Homo sapiens: one gene and its partners. The protein of the gene in region 3 interacts with the protein of the main gene of each other region in a biochemical or structural test. Each region holds a gene or a part of one and is shown on either strand. Other genes may lie near its edges.

Evidence for each region. Proteins that work in one complex are often made in the same cells at the same time.
Region 1: the proteins of RHOA (region 3) and KCNA2 form a complex in vitro, tested with the Homo sapiens proteins (one study listed by BioGRID).
Region 2: the proteins of RHOA (region 3) and DEF6 form a complex in vitro, tested with the Homo sapiens proteins (one study listed by BioGRID).
Region 4: the proteins of RHOA (region 3) and ARHGEF18 form a complex in vitro, tested with the Homo sapiens proteins (one study listed by BioGRID).

What each region holds. Positions count from the first base shown.
Region 1 is NC_000001.11:110,597,783-110,601,757, forward strand, and holds part of KCNA2 (potassium voltage-gated channel subfamily A member 2), read right to left. Parts: 3' UTR 1-3,975. UniProt on the Homo sapiens protein: Voltage-gated potassium channel that mediates transmembrane potassium transport in excitable membranes, primarily in the brain and the central nervous system, but also in the cardiovascular system.
Region 2 is NC_000006.12:35,314,343-35,318,317, reverse strand, and holds part of DEF6 (differentially expressed in FDCP 6 homolog), read right to left. Parts: intron 428-3,975; coding exon 319-427; intron 146-318; coding exon 1-145.
Region 3 is NC_000003.12:49,404,603-49,410,241, reverse strand, and holds part of RHOA (transforming protein RhoA isoform 1 precursor), read left to right. Parts: intron 1-3,435; exon of another isoform or gene 3,436-3,530; intron 3,531-5,639. UniProt on the Homo sapiens protein: Small GTPase which cycles between an active GTP-bound and an inactive GDP-bound state.
Region 4 is NC_000019.10:7,463,462-7,467,436, forward strand, and holds part of ARHGEF18 (rho guanine nucleotide exchange factor 18), read left to right. Parts: exon of another isoform or gene 1-322; intron 323-356; coding exon 357-494; intron 495-1,098; coding exon 1,099-1,229; intron 1,230-3,456; coding exon 3,457-3,513; intron 3,514-3,609; coding exon 3,610-3,657; intron 3,658-3,752; coding exon 3,753-3,975. UniProt on the Homo sapiens protein: Acts as a guanine nucleotide exchange factor (GEF) for RhoA GTPases. Its activation induces formation of actin stress fibers. Also acts as a GEF for RAC1, inducing production of reactive oxygen species (ROS). Does not act as a GEF for CDC42.

The sequences.
Region 1 (3,975 bases), on a different chromosome or scaffold from region 3:
AGTCACTATTTATTTTATTGCACTTTTCCTCTTTAAAAATATTCAAACACAAACTATGAGAGATGAAGCTGAGATTTGGTGGGAAGGGAAGCAGAAAAAAAGGAAAAGTAAACTAGGTTAGTTTGAGGAAGAGAACCTTCCTGCATGTAGGGGAGCCCCTACCTCCATCTGTCCCTGCTGGTTGCTTTGATAGGGGAACAGGGTTGGACTCAACAAGGGCTAAGTCTGAAGATATAGATGATGGTCACAATAGCTACTGAGAGAGCTCCCAGCATCCCCCTCTCTGCGCGTTGGCTCAGGTGACTGATGATGTTAATGAGGTTAAGGTCATGAGTTCAAACCCGGCAATGGATACCTTGCCAAGGCTAGGGGAACCTCCATTGTGCAACCAAGGAGCACCATGGATATTATAGCCCTCGCAGATGAGGCGGCCATCACCCACATACAAGTTATTATGACAATGGGCCCCAGGAAAGCTCTGGGGAGCAGAGCTCAGCACCATCATCCCCTCTCTTGAGTAAACAAGTCAAAGCACTGTGCTCCCCTGCCTGACATAGGGGTAGTGGTGCCACCTTCATATGCAATTTGCACACTGTTCTATAGTTTCCTTAGGGGGGAGTCAGCCTCTGTGACTCTACTACTGTGGGCAGTGCTGAATCCCCAGCCTGAGGAGCTTCAGAGGGTGCTGTCCTCTCTCCACATGGGTTGATACTGATAGAGTCCTCACTATAATATAGTGAGAGATCCAGGAAGAATAGGTAGAACAAGCTAGTCCTGGGCCCTCCCAACACGGAGCAGCAACATGAACACCCAGGCTGGGGTCTCAGGCCATCATAGCTTCCATGGGAGCCCTTTCCATACTAGGCTAACGCAATCTAGAGGCACACTCCCGTGGGGCCCCTTTTAAAAGGCTAACCTCATGGTGACATGCCAACACTAGCCTCAGAAACACAGGTGAGAGGGACAGAGGCAAGCAGAGAAGAAGGAAGAGAGCATGTCAAATATTACTGAAGTTTCAGAAAGCACAGAGCCTTAATTATTTTCTTAATTAAATGTTGGCTCCTAAAAAGTTTACTCTGAAATTTGACCCACTCAGCCACTCTCTCTTCCTGACAATCTCTCCACCTTTCCTGGGCCTATTCCTTTTCGGTCTCCTGAAAACTCCAAGTTTCTTGAAAATGAATCCACAGAGGCACTTGATGAAGCCAACAGGAATGGTACCTTGACCTGGAAACACAAGTTTCCAGCAAAGCACACGTTTTGGACCCATATGTCCACTCCCTACTGTTGTTACCTTTTCTGTAGAGACTGGGAGCTGCGACCATCACTGGAAGGGAGAGTGAGACACAACGGGATGGCTGCAGGAGCAGAAATCAGGAGTGAGGCCTGATCCAAAGCCTGACTGCAACTCTTTACTTCCGATGTAGGTGAAGCCTTTGCTAAAATGCACTCAGCTCTCAGCTAGTCCTACTTAGGGGAAGAACCAGCTCCAAGAGTAATCCAAAATGGTGGGTAATCTTAGAAAGTATTTAAATATGGCCTTAGAATATAGGATAAAGTCAGGCCCTCTAAAAAGTGTTAGCTTGCTTAGCCTTAGATGTATGTTCTTAATCACTTTTTACTTAAGCTGAACTGGGTTGCATAGCAATTGGATGGGAGGCAGGGCATCCAGGGGAGCCCAACAAGAGGAAAAGGAAGAGCGTGCCCGGGATTGAACACACCCAGAGGGGAATCAGGAGTTGGCCCCTTTGGGCTTATGCACAAGAGCAAGTGAAATGCCACAAGCAAGTAAAGGTGGCTCATTTTAAGAGACAGGTCTCTATAGGGTCTCAACTTCCTGACCGTGCCCCCAACAAAGCTGCAAAGGATGGAAGGGCAATAAAATCTGTGGGCTTAGAGAATGTTGGGGACATCTTTACCCTGGTCCTGGGCTCAAGATCCTGCAGTTTCTTGAGCCATTACTGCTTTTAAGAGAATAGGGCTGAATCTGGAGATCCCAGGTGCTGGGAGAAGGGGAGCCTGGGCTATTGGGTTGTCTGTGCGGATTTGCTGGAAGGAAGGAAGGGTCATGGCAAGGAGGCCTATATTAGGCTACCAGCTGTCCCAGGTACTTTCACACCCTGCACCCAGGTTTCTGGTGGGAGGAAGGTGAATTGGTAGAGACCCCATGCAATTCCTGGTCTTAGTCAGATATCTGCTTGATGTGGTGGCCCATCCTCCTGCTTGAAACCTAGGAGTTACTTCTCAGGAGTGAAATCTGGTAGTGAGAGAAAAGAATAGAGAAAGAGATTCCTTGAAAGATCCTGGGGGATATAGACACAGGCCAGGCAAAGGTGATTACATCTGATCTTTTGTTTGTGCCTGTTAATTCATAGCTCTGGGGGCAGGGCAATGGGTCTGAGTATATGTCTGCATTTCATGTGTATTGTGCGATATTTTTGGGCATGTGTGCTATGTATCTTGTATGCCTATTATAAGTTAATGCATCGTGTGTATATACTGAGTTTGTGTGTATTTTATGTGTAGAAACAATGGTAAAGTAGCCTTTGTGTATCTTATATGCATATGCATTTTGTCCATGTAGTTTTTTATGTATTTTGCATCTGAGTTTCAGGTTGTATATTTGTATGTGGTGTATGTTTGTCTTTTGTGTATGTTCTGTGTAAATTCTATATCTGTGCAGAGTGTGCATTTTATATACAATTATAACCATATATCTTCTGTGTTTGCTTTTATGTTAACCTGGTCTGTCTGTATTTTGCACGTTACATGTTTTATGTTTGTGTGTGACAACAGTGTACCTATTTTGTGGTGAATGTGCATGACTGTATGTGAACATTTTAGAGTCCTGGGCCAAGGACACTGTGATAAGATATCTATCCCTGACCTAGGCCTCAGATATGGGTTGCTTTACCTTCTATTTTCCAAAGATCTGTGTCCCTCCCACCCCATGCCTTGGAAATTCAGCACCACCTCCCATGAAGGAGAGGAAGAGAAGCACAGAGGCTTTGTGCTGGGCATGGGATGCCCTGCAGATACCTGGGGATGTGGGTGACCAGGCACTAATGAGCACCCTGGGCCTAGCACCCTGAGCTGGTGCCCCATGCCCCAAGACAACTGTAGGTGCTAACTAGGCAGCAGTGAGGCCTGGGCTGGAGCCACCCCTGCATAGCCCGACCCCTGCAATTCACTGTTTGGGAAAATTAAGCTACTCCGTCAAAAGGCAAAGACGCCCAGTCTGGTGAGTTAAAAGCCCCCTACCTGAAGCCATTTCAGGGTCAACCTACTGTCTACCTTTAGGCTGTGCAGTGCTCATTTGCACTCTACTTCTTCTGGGGGGTGGGAAATGATTCTTTACCCATCCTTTGGTTCTTTTTAAAAAGCAGCTCTGGTTGCCAGTTTAATGGGGAGAGAGTTTGGGTCTGGAGATCAAAATGATGCCTTTGGATCATCTAGGGACTCCATCACTTAGTCCCGGACTTCAGACATTTCCACATAGAGGAGGCTCCCTTTAGGTCCAGATCAGTGGAATTTGGTCCCAGGGAGTCCTACTCCTTGGTGTCCTTGGTTTCAAAGCAGGGGATCCATTCTGGCTCTTTAGCGAAAGGTTTGTGAAAGTGACGGATGCAGAGCCAAATGATAATAAGATCCAAGTGGCAAGGGAAGAGGTGAAAATGGAGATGATGAACAGGATGAACTGTAGAGAGGAGGCCCGGGGTGGGTCTGGCCCAGGACAGCTGGAACTGTGAGGGCCACAGGGCCCTTGTGCACTCAGTAAGACAAGCTTCAGCCATGGGAACTGAAGCTGCAGCACATGGAGGGCAGAAAGACAATTCTAACGTCTAGGAATCCATGGATACCGGAGTGTCTGAGGCAATGGCAGCAAACCCAGGCCCAGTGGGGTTACCAATGAGACAAATTAACCCATTAGGCCTCTTAGACAGCCAACCCACCAAGCAGTGGATTTGCTCCTGA
Region 2 (3,975 bases), on a different chromosome or scaffold from region 3:
TGCAGCTGCTGCAGCCGCAGCAGCTCCTCTTCCTTGGCCGCCCGGCGCCGCTCCCGCTGCTCCCGCTGCTCGCGCCGTTTCTGCTTCAGGTCCTTGTGTAGGGACGTCTTCCCCTCGGCCTGCAGCCGGATCGCCATCTGGATGGCTGCCGAAGAGCGGGAGCGGGTCAGTAGGATCCTCGCACACGGCCCGAAAGGGGCCTTAGGAGTTTCCCGAGTCCACTCTCCAACCTCCCGCTGGACAAAGTATTATCACCCCCTTTTCACAGATGAGGCGCCTAAGGACCACCCAGACCCAAGCCACCTAGCGAGCACTCACCAGCTGTCCACTCCTGGCGCTGGCGCGTGTCTGAGGCGCTCATCTCATACGTGCGGTTGGCTGTCTTCACACAGAACATGCAGCGCTTTCCGTCGCGGTCTGGCAGCACCTGGCACAGGGTAGGTGGCCGCAGCCAGGCTGGCCTCACTGGGTCAGGGCCCCACCTGCCCCAAGGGTGCTCCAGCTCAAGCCCCTAGCCCTCCTGGCTATCTTCCCTGGGGACCCCACTCTGCCAGGAGCCTGCATGGCTTGCATCATAAGTTATGGGGGACTTAAGTCCCCACAACTCTGTAGCCTTTGCTCTTTGAAGGCTAGGTGGGTGCGTTTCCATCTTGCTATTATTCCACGGGGCCCAGTACATAATCGCCACTCAGTGTTTATGCAGATCACGCTTGAACACTGCCAGTAACAGGGTCCTCACTATCCATGACAACTCACTTCCACATAGCCCTGCTTGTTAAGAGTTCATTCATTCATTCCGCAGATGTTTTTGGAGTGCCTACTGAGTGCCACTCACTGCTCCAGGGGTTGGGATACTAAGGTGTGCCTAACAGACCAAATCTCTGCCTCCATTAAGTTTACATTCTGTGGAAAATAATAGCTACCACATTCTAGAGTCTGTACTAGTATTTTATATGCATCATTATCTTCACTCCACCTATACAGCTTTGCCAGGCAGGCATTATTAGCTCCACTTTACAGAGAAAGAAACTGAGGCACTAAGAGCTCCAGGATTGTCCACCTCACACTGTTAGTCTGTTAGTGATGAGGCTTGGACTTCTGCGTAGATCCGTGCTCCTTTCCACAGTAACACCTTATGTGACAAAATTAGACAGATCCTAGGATGGCTATGATAATTTTTTAAAAGGAAAAACAACTGTTGGTAAGGAAATGGAGAAACTGAGATCCTCACACACTGTTAGGGATATTATCCAGCCTTAAAAAGGAATGAAATTCTGATATATTTGACAACATAGATGAAGCCTGAAAACATTTCTAAGTAAAAGAAACCAGACACAAAGGGACAAATATTTTATGATTCTATTTATGTAAGATACCTAGAAAAGGCAAATTCATGGAGACAGAAAGCAGAATAGAGGATACTAGGAGCTGGGGTCAGGGAGTATGAGGAGTTATTGCTTGGTAGGTACAGAGTTTCTGTTTGGTGTGATGAAAAAGTTTTGGAAATAGATAGTGGTGATGGTTGTACAATATTGTGAGTATAGATCTTTCACCATGATCAGATGGGATTCATCCCAGGGATGCAAGGATGGTTCAACATGCACAAATCAATATGCATGACACATCATAGTAACAGAACCAAGAGCAAAAACCATATATGATCATTTCAATAGACCCTGAAAAAGCTTTCTAAAAAAATTCAACATCGTGTTATAAAAGCCCTAAAATATTGGGTATAGAGGCAACATACCTTAAAATAATAAACGCTATCTATGACAAACTCACAGCTAACATTGTAATAAATGGAGAAAAATTGAAAGCCTTTCCTCTAAGATCTGGAACAAGACAAGGATGCCCACTTTTACCACTTTTATTCCATGTAGTATTGGGAGTTCTGGCCAGAGCAATTAGGCAAGAGAAGGAAATGAAGGGCATCCAAACTGGAAATGAAGAAGTCAGATTAGCCTTGTTTGCAGATGGCATGGTCTTCTACTTAGAAAAATCTAAAGACTCCATGGGGCGTGGTGGCTTACACTTGTAATCCTAACACTTTGGGAAGCTGAGGTGGTTGGATTGCTTGAGGCCAGGAGTTCGACACCAGCCTGGGCAATACAGTGAGATCCTGTCTCTCTCTTAAAAAAAAAAAAAAGGCCGGGCACAGTGGCTTATACCTGTAATCCCAGCACTTTGGGAGGCCGAGGTGGGCAGATCATCTGAGGTCAGGAGTTTGAGACCAGCCTGGCCAACACGGTGAAATGCTGTCTCTACTAAAAATACAAAAAAAAAAAAAATTAGCCAGGTGTGGTGGCAGGTGCCTGTAATCCCAGCTAACTTGGGAGGCTGAGGCAGGAGAATCACTTGAACTCGGGAGGCGGAGGTTGCAGTGAGCTGAGATCGTGCCATTGCACTCCAGCCTGGGCGATAAAAGCAAGACTCCTCCTCCTCCTCAAAAAAAAAAAAAAAAAAAAAAGGGACTCCAACAAAAAACCGTTAGAGTTGATGAATGAATTCAGTAAAGTTGCAGGATAATTCAACATACAAAACCCAGTAGCATTTGTATACGCTAACAGCAAACAATCTGAAAAAGAAGTTGAGTGCAATCCCATTTCCAACAGCTACAAAGAATGTAAAATACCTAAGAATCGATGTAACCAAAGTGAAAGATCTATACAAGAAAAACTATAAAACTGATGAAATAAATTGAAGAGGATGCAAAAAAATGGAGAGATATCCCATGCTATGTATTGGAAAAATTAATATTGTTAAAATAACAATATTACCCAAAGCAATTTATAGATTTGGTGCAATCTCTGTCAAAATAGCAAAGGCATTCTTCATAGATATAGAAAAAAAATCCTAAAATTTATACGGAACTACAAAAGACCTCAAATAGCCAAAGTAAGCCTGAGTAAAAAGAACGAAGCTGGAGGCATCACATTTCCTGACTTCAAAATACACTACGAACTGGCCACGGTGGTACACACCTATAGCCCCAGCTATTCAGGAGGCTGAAGCAGGAGGATCCCATGAGCCCAAGGAGACTGAGGCTGCAGTGACCTATGATCATACCACTGCACTCCAGCCTGGACACCAGAGAAAAATCCTGTCTCTAAAATAAAACAAAAAAACAAAATGTAGTACAAAGCTATAGTAACCAAATCAGCATAGTACTGGCATAAAAAGAGACACAAAGACCAATGGAACAGAATAGATAACCTAGATATAAATCCATGCATTTACAGAGAACTCATTTTTGACAAAGGCTCCAGGAACACACAATGGGGAAAGAACAGTCCTTTCAATAAATGGTTCTGGGAAAACTAAATAACCACATGCAGATGAATGAAACTAGACCCCTATCTCTCACCATATAAAAAAATCAAATAAAAATGGATTAAACATTTAAATGTAAGACCTGAAACTATGAAACTACTAGAAGAAAACATTGGAGAAATATTCCAGGACATTGGTCTGGGCAAAGAGATTTTTTGTGGAAGACCTCAAAAGCATAGGCAACCAAACCAAAAATAGAAAAATGGGATTATGTCAAGCTAAAAAGCTTCAGGACAGCCATGGAAACAATCAACAAAGTGAAGAGACAACCCACAGAATAGGAGAAAATATTTGCAAAGTATCAATCTGACGAGGGATTAATAACCAGAATATATAAGGAGCTCAAACAACTCTGTAACAAAAAACCAAATAATCCAGTTTAAAAATGGGCAAAAGATCTGAATAGATATTTCTCAAAAGAAGACATACAAATGGTCAACAGAGATATGAAAAAATGCTCAATGTCACTAATCATCAGAGAAAAGCAAATCAAAATTAAATGAGATATCATTTCATCCCAGTTAAAATGGCTTTTTACAAAAAAAATAGAGAACATCTTTTTTTTTTTTTTTTTTTTGAGATAGAGTTTCACTCCTGTCACCCAGGCTGAAGTGCAATGGTGCAATCTTGACTCACTGCAAC
Region 3 (5,639 bases):
AGAACTGTCTGCTCTGTTAAGGTATTCTCCATTTACTCCCAAGCAGTTGGCCTCCAGAGTCAGCTAAAATTCAGGACTTCTAGCTTATTCCATTGTTTCTTCTTTTAAACCTTGTTGATGGTGAATAGTTTGGGAGAAACTGTTCATTTGCCAAAAAATTTCGGTTCATTAGCTTACACAGCACTCTCCCCTTGTTAACTGGATGGTCCTGCCTTCAATTGAGGGAGATAGATGAATGTACGAGGGTCCCTGGTTGGCCTAATCATGGCTTTGTTTGGATTTTTTTTTAAGGGACCAACTTCTAGAGCAAGGCCTACACTTTACTGCTTCAAAACCAAGATATTTAGGTCAGGCTAAGATATTTTTAGTTAACTGTGGGCACTTTTGACTGTTGATTTGGGGTACTGCGTGTATCAAGTAAACAATTCCCTGTGCACATGCATGTGGTGGTGGTGGAGTATTTTCGTAGTCCTGATTTCTTTCCATTTGTCAGTTAACTGCTTTTTAAAAGTTTATTCTGGTCATATGGGGGTGTAAGTTATTAGGAGAGTAAAAACAGGTAGCTCTTCAGGTGTTTCTTGTCCATGGGGTGGAGTCCATGCAGTGACTGGAGAAGGTGCTAGTTTGCGTCTTTTTAATTGTCTTAGAGAGCTGAGAGATATATGTTAACTCTGAGAAGAAAGACTGATCAGCTTCTAAGAGAGCTAATTTGAAGCTGCTGGCCTTCTGTAGACAGCACCTTGGGTTTAATTGCATTGTGGTTACTAGTGATTATGATAAATAGTACATAGTCACTGGATTTTAAAATTGGCCATATAGTTGTAGTTTTATATTTATTTTTATTTTTGAAATGGAGTCTCACTCTGTTGCCCAGGCTGGAGTGCAGTGGCGCGATCTCAGCTCACTGCACCGTCTGCCTCCTGGGTTCAAGTGATTCTCCTGCCTCGGCCCCTGGAGTAGCTGGGACTACAGGCACCCACCACCATTCCTGGCTAACTTTTGTATTTTTAGTAGAGATGGGGTTTCACCGTGTTGGCCAGGCTGGTCTTGAACTCCTGACCTCAGGTGATCCGCCTGCCTTGGCCTCCCAAAGTGCTGGGATTACAAGGGTGAGCCACCACGCCCACCCATATTTGTAGTTTTAAAAGGATCCTGGCAGGGCGCGGTGGTTCATGCCTGTAATCCCAGCACTTTGGGAGGCCGAGGCGGGCGGATCACGAGGTCTGGAGACCATCCTGGCTAACACGGTGAAACCCCGTCTCTACTAAAAATACAAAAAAAATTAGCTGGGTGTGGTGGCGGGCGCCTGTAGTCCCAGCTGCTCTGGAGGCTGAGGCAGGGGAATGGCGTGAACCCGAGAGGCGGAGCTTGCCGTGAGCTGAGATCGCGCCACTGTGCTCCAGCCAGGGCAACAGAGCGAGACTCCGTCTCAAAAAAAAAAAAAAAGGATCTTAAGTATTTTGTCTGACTCTGCCATTTAGTTTATTCCTTTGTTTACCTGCCCAATGGAACTGTTTGCTTGTAACTACACATTAATATAACTAAATTTTGAACTTAATGTTACATGCCTTGCTATACATGGGGCTCTTTGGGGACATGCTCATTTGTGGGATTAAAATTTCCAAGACGGTTTGAAGTTTGTAATTACTATAAAATCCCTCATCTTTAATCTGTGGAGCTGTAGTATTAAGTGAAGGCCTTGGTATGTTCATAATTACGATAGTCATGTGACTGAAAATCAGGCACTGAAGCTGCTCGTTCTGGGTGTTGGTCTCAGTTTATTGATGCTTCATCCAAATACATTTTTATAGCTAATAATAAAGAAAAACATCAAATACTCTTGCTAAATTGCAATCAGTATGCAGTTTATGCCAAACTTAGCTTGATTTTATTTTTTGAAGAGGATGAGTATGTATATTTAAGCATATGTGTGTGTGTGTATATGTATATATACTTGTGTATACGTATATACGTGTATACGTATATATATGTGTACATATACGTGTATACGTATATATATGTGTACATATACGTGTGTGTATGTGTGTGTGTATATATATATATTTTTTTTTTTTTCTCTTTTGAGACTGAGTCTCACTCTGTCGTCCGGGCCAGAGTGCAGTAGCGCCATCTCGGCTCACTGCAACCGCCGCCTCCTAGTTCAAGTGATTCTTGTGCCTCGGCCTCTGGAGTAGTTGGGAGTACCAGCATGCGCCACTGTGCTCAGCTAATTTTTGTATTTTTAGTAGAGACGGGGTTTCACCATGTTGGTCAGGCTGTTCTCGAACTCCTGGCCTTGTGATCTGCCCCCCTTGGCCTCTGAAAGTGTTGAGATTGCAGGTGAGAGCCACTATGTCTGGCCATATTTAAGCATATTTATGATAGTATCTTAAATTTAAGTGAAGGGAAAGAGGAAAACATACACAGCCAATGAAGTAAGTTTGAAGTGGAGTGAAAGGAAAAGTTGGAGGTAAAAAGAGGTTAGAGAGGTGGGCAGGGGCCAAATCATATAGGGCCTTTAGGACATGGGAAATTCTTTGGATTTGTTCTGAGATTAGAAGTCATTTAGATATTCTTTAGAAAGGGAATGACATGATCTGATATTAAAAAAAAAACTAGAATCACTGTGAGTAGGAGTAGATCTAATTCCATTCTGACTAAATAGTAAACTAATATGATAATTTGGACAAATATAAAAAGGAATTCCTGGCTGGGAGCAGTGGCTGATGCCTGTAATCCCAGCACTTTGGAAGTGCTGGGCAGGTGGATCACTTGAGGTCAGGAGTTTGAGACCAGCCTGGCCACATGGTGAAACCCTGTCTCTACTAAAAATACAAAACATTAGCTGGGCGTGGCAGCAGGCGCCTATAATCCCGGCTATTCAGGAGGCTGAGATAGGAGAATCACTTTAACCTGGGAGGCGGAGGTTGCTGTGAGCAGAGATCGAGCCATTGCACTCCAGCCTGGGAGACGGTGCAAGACTCAAAAAAAAAAAAAAAAAAAAAAAAACGGAAAGGATTTCATAATATTAATTTCCTTGACTTAGTGACTTCTGCCTATTTTATTTGAAGTCATTGGTTCTTCTCTTCTCTTCTCTTGAGACAGGGTCTCACTGTCACCCAGGCTGGAGTGCAGTGAGTGATCTTTGTTCACTTCAACCTTTGTTTCCCAGGTTCAAGCGATTCTCGTGCCTCAGTCTCTAGAGTAGCTGGGACTACAGGTGTGTGTGTGTGACCATGCCCGACTAATTTTTGTATTTTTAGTAAAGACGGGATCTCACCATGTTGGCCAGGATGGCCTTGATCTCTTGACCTCGTGACCCCGTGACCCACCCACCTTGGCCTCCCAAGGTGTTGGGATTACAAGCATGAGCCACTAAGGATTTGTTTTTAAAATTTTTTTGCTTTATTTTTTTCTTCTCTTTTTTTGTACTAGAGATGGTGTCTTGCTATGTTGCCCAGACAGATCTTGTACTCCTGGGCTCAAGTTGTCCTCCTGCCTCAGCCTCCCAAAGTGCTGGGATTAAAGATGTGAGTCAAGCGATTCTCGTGCCTCAACCTACCCACTAGCTCGATTACAGGTGCCATCCACCACCTGCCCACCACCCTTGGCTAATTTTTGTATTTTGTATTTTAGTAGAGACAAGAATTTTACCATGTCGGCCAGGCTGGTCTCAAATTCCTGACCTCAGGCAATCCACCCGCCTCAGCTTCCTGCTGGGATTACGGGCGTGAGCTACCCTGGCCAAGATTTTTAATTTCTGAAGCTTATAGCTGCTCTAAAGCACAAGGATTCAGTCCCATGATTTAAAAAAGTTGCTTGTTTTGACTTCAAGTATATGGTTGAGCATTCTAACTTTTGTTATGTATACATTTTTATTTTACTGTATTCTTCTAGCCATTGTATCCTAGTCTGTATGTTGCAGATGAGTTGTGATTCTCTGGTGTCTCTTCCATGGACCTAGAGATCATATGCTCTACTACTGGGATTTTTTTTTGTAACTTTGTTTGGGATATAGGCTTTGAGAGGTTAAGGAAGTAAATTTAAGATGGATATTTAATGTTGTAACACTTTGTTAATGCTTTTTTCTACAAGATAATTTTATTATGTGATATGGCAGCTTTGTTGGAAATACCTGTTTTTTTGTGTGTGTGGAAAATTTCTTTTCTGGATGAAATCTCTTGTTTAACTTTTCCAGTTATTCATAATGAAGCTCTGTTTATCTTTTGAAGATCTTAAGTTCAGAAACAGAAGGCAGGCTGCGTATGGTGGCTCATGCCAGTTATCCCAGCACTTTGGGAGGCCGAGGTGGGTGGGTCACCTGAGGTCAGGAGTTCGAAACCAGTCTGACCAACATGGTGAAACCCCATCTCTACTAAAAATACAAAAATCAGCCGAGTGTATTAGTGAGTGCCTGTAATCCCAGCTACTCGGAAGGCTGAAGCAGGAGAATCCCTCGAACTTGAGAGGCGCAGGTTGCAGTGAGCCAAGATTGCTGCACTCCAGCCCGGGCAACAGAGCGAAACTCCGTCTCAAACATACACACAAAAAAAAGAAGGAAAGAAAAGGCAGTAGAGTATCTTATTTAAGAGCATGGATTCTGGAGAGAAACTGACAGTTAAATACTAGCTCTGACACTTGATGGCTTGAGACCCTTGGCAGTAGTATGTCTCCTTTGTAATTCAGTTTTTTTCTTCTGTAGAAAGGGAATGGTAAGGAAGCGCCATGAGATTTCAGTGAGAGAGAAGCACTTACCTCAAGTGCCAGACATGTAGCCCTTCAACTAACTTATTTTATTTATTTATTTTTTGAGATGGAGTTTTGCTCTTGTTGCCCAGGCTGGAGTGCAATGGCGTGATCCCAGCTCACTGCAACCTCCACCTCCTGGATTCAAGTGATTCTCCTGCCTCAGCCTCCCCATTAGTTGGGGTTTACAGGCATGTCACCATGCCCAGCTAATTTTTTTTTTTTTTTTTTTTTTTTTGAGACACAGTCTCGCTCTGTCACCCAGGCTGGAGTGCAGTGGCGCGATCTCGGCTCACTGCAACCTCCGCCCTCCGAGTTCAAGCAGTTCTCCTTCCTCAGCCTCCTGAGTAGCTGAGACTACAGGTGCCCGCCACCACGCCCGGCTAGGTGTTTTTTTTTTTTGTATTTTTAGTAGAGACAGGGTTTTACCGTGTTAGCCAGGATGGTCCCGATCTCCTGACCTCAGGTGATCTGCCTGCCTCCGCCTCCCAAAGTGTTGGGATTATAGGTGTGAGCCACCGCGCCTGGCCTACTTTTTTTATTATTTTTTTTTTTGGAGACAAGAGTCTCGCTCTGTCGCCCAGGCTGGAGTGCAGTGGCGTGATCTCGGCTCACTGCAAACTCTGCCTCCCGGGTTCATGCGGTTCTCCTGCCTTAGCCTCCCAGGTAAACTGGGACTACAGGTGCATGCTGCCACGCCTGGCTAATTTTTTTTTTTTTTTGTATTTTAGTAGAGACGGGGTTTAACCATGTTGCCCAGGCTGGTCTCCATCTCCTGAGCTCAGGCAATCTGCCTGCCTTGGCCTCCCAAAGTGCTAGGATTACAGCCGTGAGCCACCGTGCCTGGCCTTCTGGCCTTTTTTTTTTTTTTTTTTTTTTTTTTTGAGACGGAG
Region 4 (3,975 bases), on a different chromosome or scaffold from region 3:
CACACCAAGTGTTTCCTGCTGGCCCTGGGCAGGGCCACATCCAGCATTCGCCAGCCCCTGGCCCAGGGCGGCCTGGTGGAAGGAGCTGCAGGAGCCTGTACCCGCCCTCCCCATGGCTGCCCCACAGCCCTGTCCTCTCACTTAGACGCAGATTGGCCTGTCCTGGTGGCCATACCTGAAGTAAGGGTGTGCGCAGGGACAGTGGGGCTGAAATCCCACGGCACACAGAAGGGGGCAGGCGATCACCACCCCAGTGAGTCCCTCCGTCCACCCGGGTCTCGCTGCCCCAGCGCTCCGTATTCCCCCAGCACACTTCCGCAGGGCGACCCGTGCCTCCTGTCCCCTTCCTTCCACAGTCGAGGGCATCCAGAGCCTGATCTGCAGGCAGCTGGGCAGCGCCAACGGCCAGGCGGAAGACGGAGGCAGCTCCACAGGCCCGCCCAGGAGGGCTGAGACCTTCGCGGGCTACGACTGCACAAACAGCCCCACCAAGAGTAAGAGCGGGGCCGTCTCCCCTCCTGCCTCCAGGGCCGCCCCTCAGGATGCACATTAACTTGTATGGGGTTTCCTAGAACTTTCTTTTTTGTTGTTGTTGAGACAGAGTCTTGCTCTGTCACCCAGGCTGGAGTGCAGTGGCGCAATCTCAGCTCTCTGCAACCTCTGCCTCCTGGGTTCAAGTGATTCTCCCGCCTCAGCCTACCAAGTAGCTGGGACTATAAGCACACGCCACCATGCCCGGCTACTTTTTGTATTTTTAGTAGAAATGGGGTTTCACCATGTTGGCCAGGCTGGTCTCGAACTCCTGACTTCAGGTGATCCGCCCGCCTCAGCCTCCCAAAGTGCTGAGATTGCAGGTGTGAGCCACCGCACCCAGCCGATTTTCTGGAACCTTCTGAAACCCTCCAGACATCGTTGGTTGTGTTGTGACAGCAGCACCCAGACCAGCCTGCCCCTCTCCAGCAGGCGTCTGTGCTGCAGACGCCACCATTCGGGCCTAGCCTGGGTTTCCTACCTGGGCAGGGGCTGGGGGTGGACTGGGAAGCTTCCCCCTCCCCACGGGATGGCAGCATCCTCATGCCCCTGGCTTGGGGTTCTCAGATGGCAGTTTCAAGAAGAAAGTCAGCAGCACTGACCCCAGGCCCCGAGACTGGCGAGGCCCCCCAAACAGCCCGGACTTGAAGCTCAGTGACAGTGACATTCCTGGGAGCTCTGAGGAATCGCCGCAGGTGGTACGTGGATATCCATTTGCTCGGTACAGTCTGAGTCGTCATAAGGATTCATGTGTGTGAGCAGCTTCTGCTGGGGTTGTCCAGTTTTAGTCTTATTAGCATCGACAAGCATTGTTTGTTTTGTGGTGAATAACAGTATCTCAGCCCAGATTAATGCACTGGCAGGTGATTTCTTCCTGCAGCCTCCTGGGAAAAGCAAAGAGGTCCCCAAGAGGAAGGCTGGGGAGGGGACAGGCTCAGGGCACTCACCATGGCTTCATCAACAGGCGAGGAACCCCCTACAGGGACCACCAGCTTTCAGCCGGGGCAGGTGTGGTGGTGCCTACCAGATGCCAGATGTCCCCGGCTATTCCTTTGCCTTTGAATCAGAAGGCCAGGTGCCTACTCGGCCCTGCCCAGGTCAGGGGGTCAGAGGCCAAGGCCAGTTGCCTCTGATCAGTTCTGAGGCTTGGACTTGCCCCTGTGGCCAGAGCTGGCACGCAGGCCTCATAGCCAAGCCCACTCTACCTCCCAGGAGGCCCCAGCCCCTCGTTTTCCAAACACCCAGATTTGTACAAGTCAGCTGACCAGCAGGGCCTGTGTTCCCAGTCATGACCCGGTCCTGGGTCCTTCCTGTTATCCACACTAAGGGATGTATTTTCAATAATAAGCAGGGGCCGGGTGCAGTGCCTCACACCCATAATCCCAGTGTTTTGGGAGACCGAGGTGGGAGGATCACTTTTTTTTTTTTTTTTTGGAGACAAGGTCTCACTCTGTCACCCAGGCTTGAGGGCAGTGGCGTGATCACAGCTCACACAGCCTCTAACTCCTAGGCTCAAGCAATCCTCCCACCTCAGCCTCCCAAGTAGCTGAAACTACAGGTGCGCGCCCCCACACCTGACTAATTTTTTAAATGTTTGGTAGATACAGGGTCTCACTATGTTGCCCAGGCTGGTTTCCAACTCCTGGGCTCAAGCAATCCTCCTGCCTGGGCCTCCCAAAGTGTTGGGATTATAGGCAAGGCCGCCATACCTGGCCTTGGGAGGATCACTTGAGGCCATGAGTTTGAGACCAGCCTGGGCAACATAGCAAGACCACATGTCGACAAAATATTTTTAAAATAGCTGATCCTTTGGCTGGGTGCGGTGGCTCATGCCTGTAATCCCAGCACTTCAGGAGGCCGACTCGGGTGATCACTTGAGTCCAGGGTTTGAGACCAGCCTGGCCAACATGGTGAAACCCTGTCTCTACTAAAAATATAAAAATTAGCTGGACGTGGTGGTGGATACCTGTAATCCCAGCTACTCAGGAGGCTAAGGTGGGAGAATCGCTTGAACCTAGGAGGTGGAGGTTGCAGTGAGCCGAGATTGCACCACTGCACTCTAGCCTGGGCGACCAAGCAAGACTTTGTTTCAAAAAAGTTAAAAATAGCTGCTGGGTGTGGTGGCTCACGCCTGTAATCCCAGCACTTTGGGAAGCCAAGGCAGGTGGATCACCTGAGGTCAGGAATTCGAGACCAGCCTGACCAACATGGTGAAACCCCGCCTCTACCAAATATACAAAATTAGCCAGGCGTGGTGGCACATTCGAGTAATCCCAGCTATTTGGGAGGCTGAGGCAGGAGAATCACTTGAACCAGGAAGGTGGTGGTTTCAGTGAGCTGAGATCGTGCCATTGCACTCCAGCCTGGGCAACGAGCAAAACTCCATCTCAAAAAAAAAAAAAAAAAAAATTAAAAATAGCTGATCCTGGTGGTGCACACCTGTAGTCCCAGCTACTCAGGAGGCCGAGGTGGGAGGATCAGGCCACTACACTCTAGAGCAAGGCCCTGTCTCAAAAAAAAAAAAAAGAAGCCAGGCATGGTGGCTCATGCCTGTAATCCCAGCACTTTGGGAGGCCGAGGCGGGCGGATCACCTGAGGTCAGGAGTTTGCAACCAGCCTGGCCAACATGGTGAAACTCCGTTTCTACTAAAAATACACAAAATTAGCCAGGCGTGGAGGCTTGAGCCTATAATCCCAATTACTCGGGAGGTTGAGGCAGGAGAATTGCTTGAACCCGGGAGCTGGAGGGTGCAGTGAGCCAAGATCGCGCCACTGCACTCCAGCTTGGGCAACAAGAGCAGAATTCCGTCTCAAAAAAAAAAAAAAAAAAAAAAGTTAAAAAAAAAGAAGAAGAAGAAGAAGGCTTGAGTCTAGTCGGATGGGTCTTGAGCCACTCTCTCTGGTTTGACGGTGTCCTCTTCCCAGGTGGAGGCGCCAGGCACGGAATCCGATCCCCGTCTGCCCACCGTCCTGGAGTCGGAGGTAGGCGCCCGCGGGTCTCCATCTCCCCAGGGCCTTGTGCACGCGCGTGTGGCCTCAGCCCGATAACTAGCATCAATCTCCCTCTCCTCTCCGCAGCTTGTCCAGCGGATCCAGACACTGTCCCAGCTGCTCCTGAACCTTCAGGTACAGGGGCGGGGTGGGGCCGGCCACGCGTGCCCTTTCCTGGTTGGCTGGGGCGCAGGTGCGGCTCTCACTCGCCTGGCCCTGGCCCTCCGCAGGCGGTAATCGCCCACCAGGACAGCTATGTGGAGACGCAGCGGGCTGCCATCCAGGAGCGGGAGAAGCAGTTCCGGCTGCAGTCGACGCGTGGGAACCTGCTGCTGGAGCAGGAGCGGCAACGCAACTTCGAGAAGCAGCGGGAGGAGCGCGCGGCCCTGGAGAAGCTGCAGAGCCAGCTGCGGCACGAGCAGCAGCGCTGGGAGCGCGAGCGCCAGTGGCAGC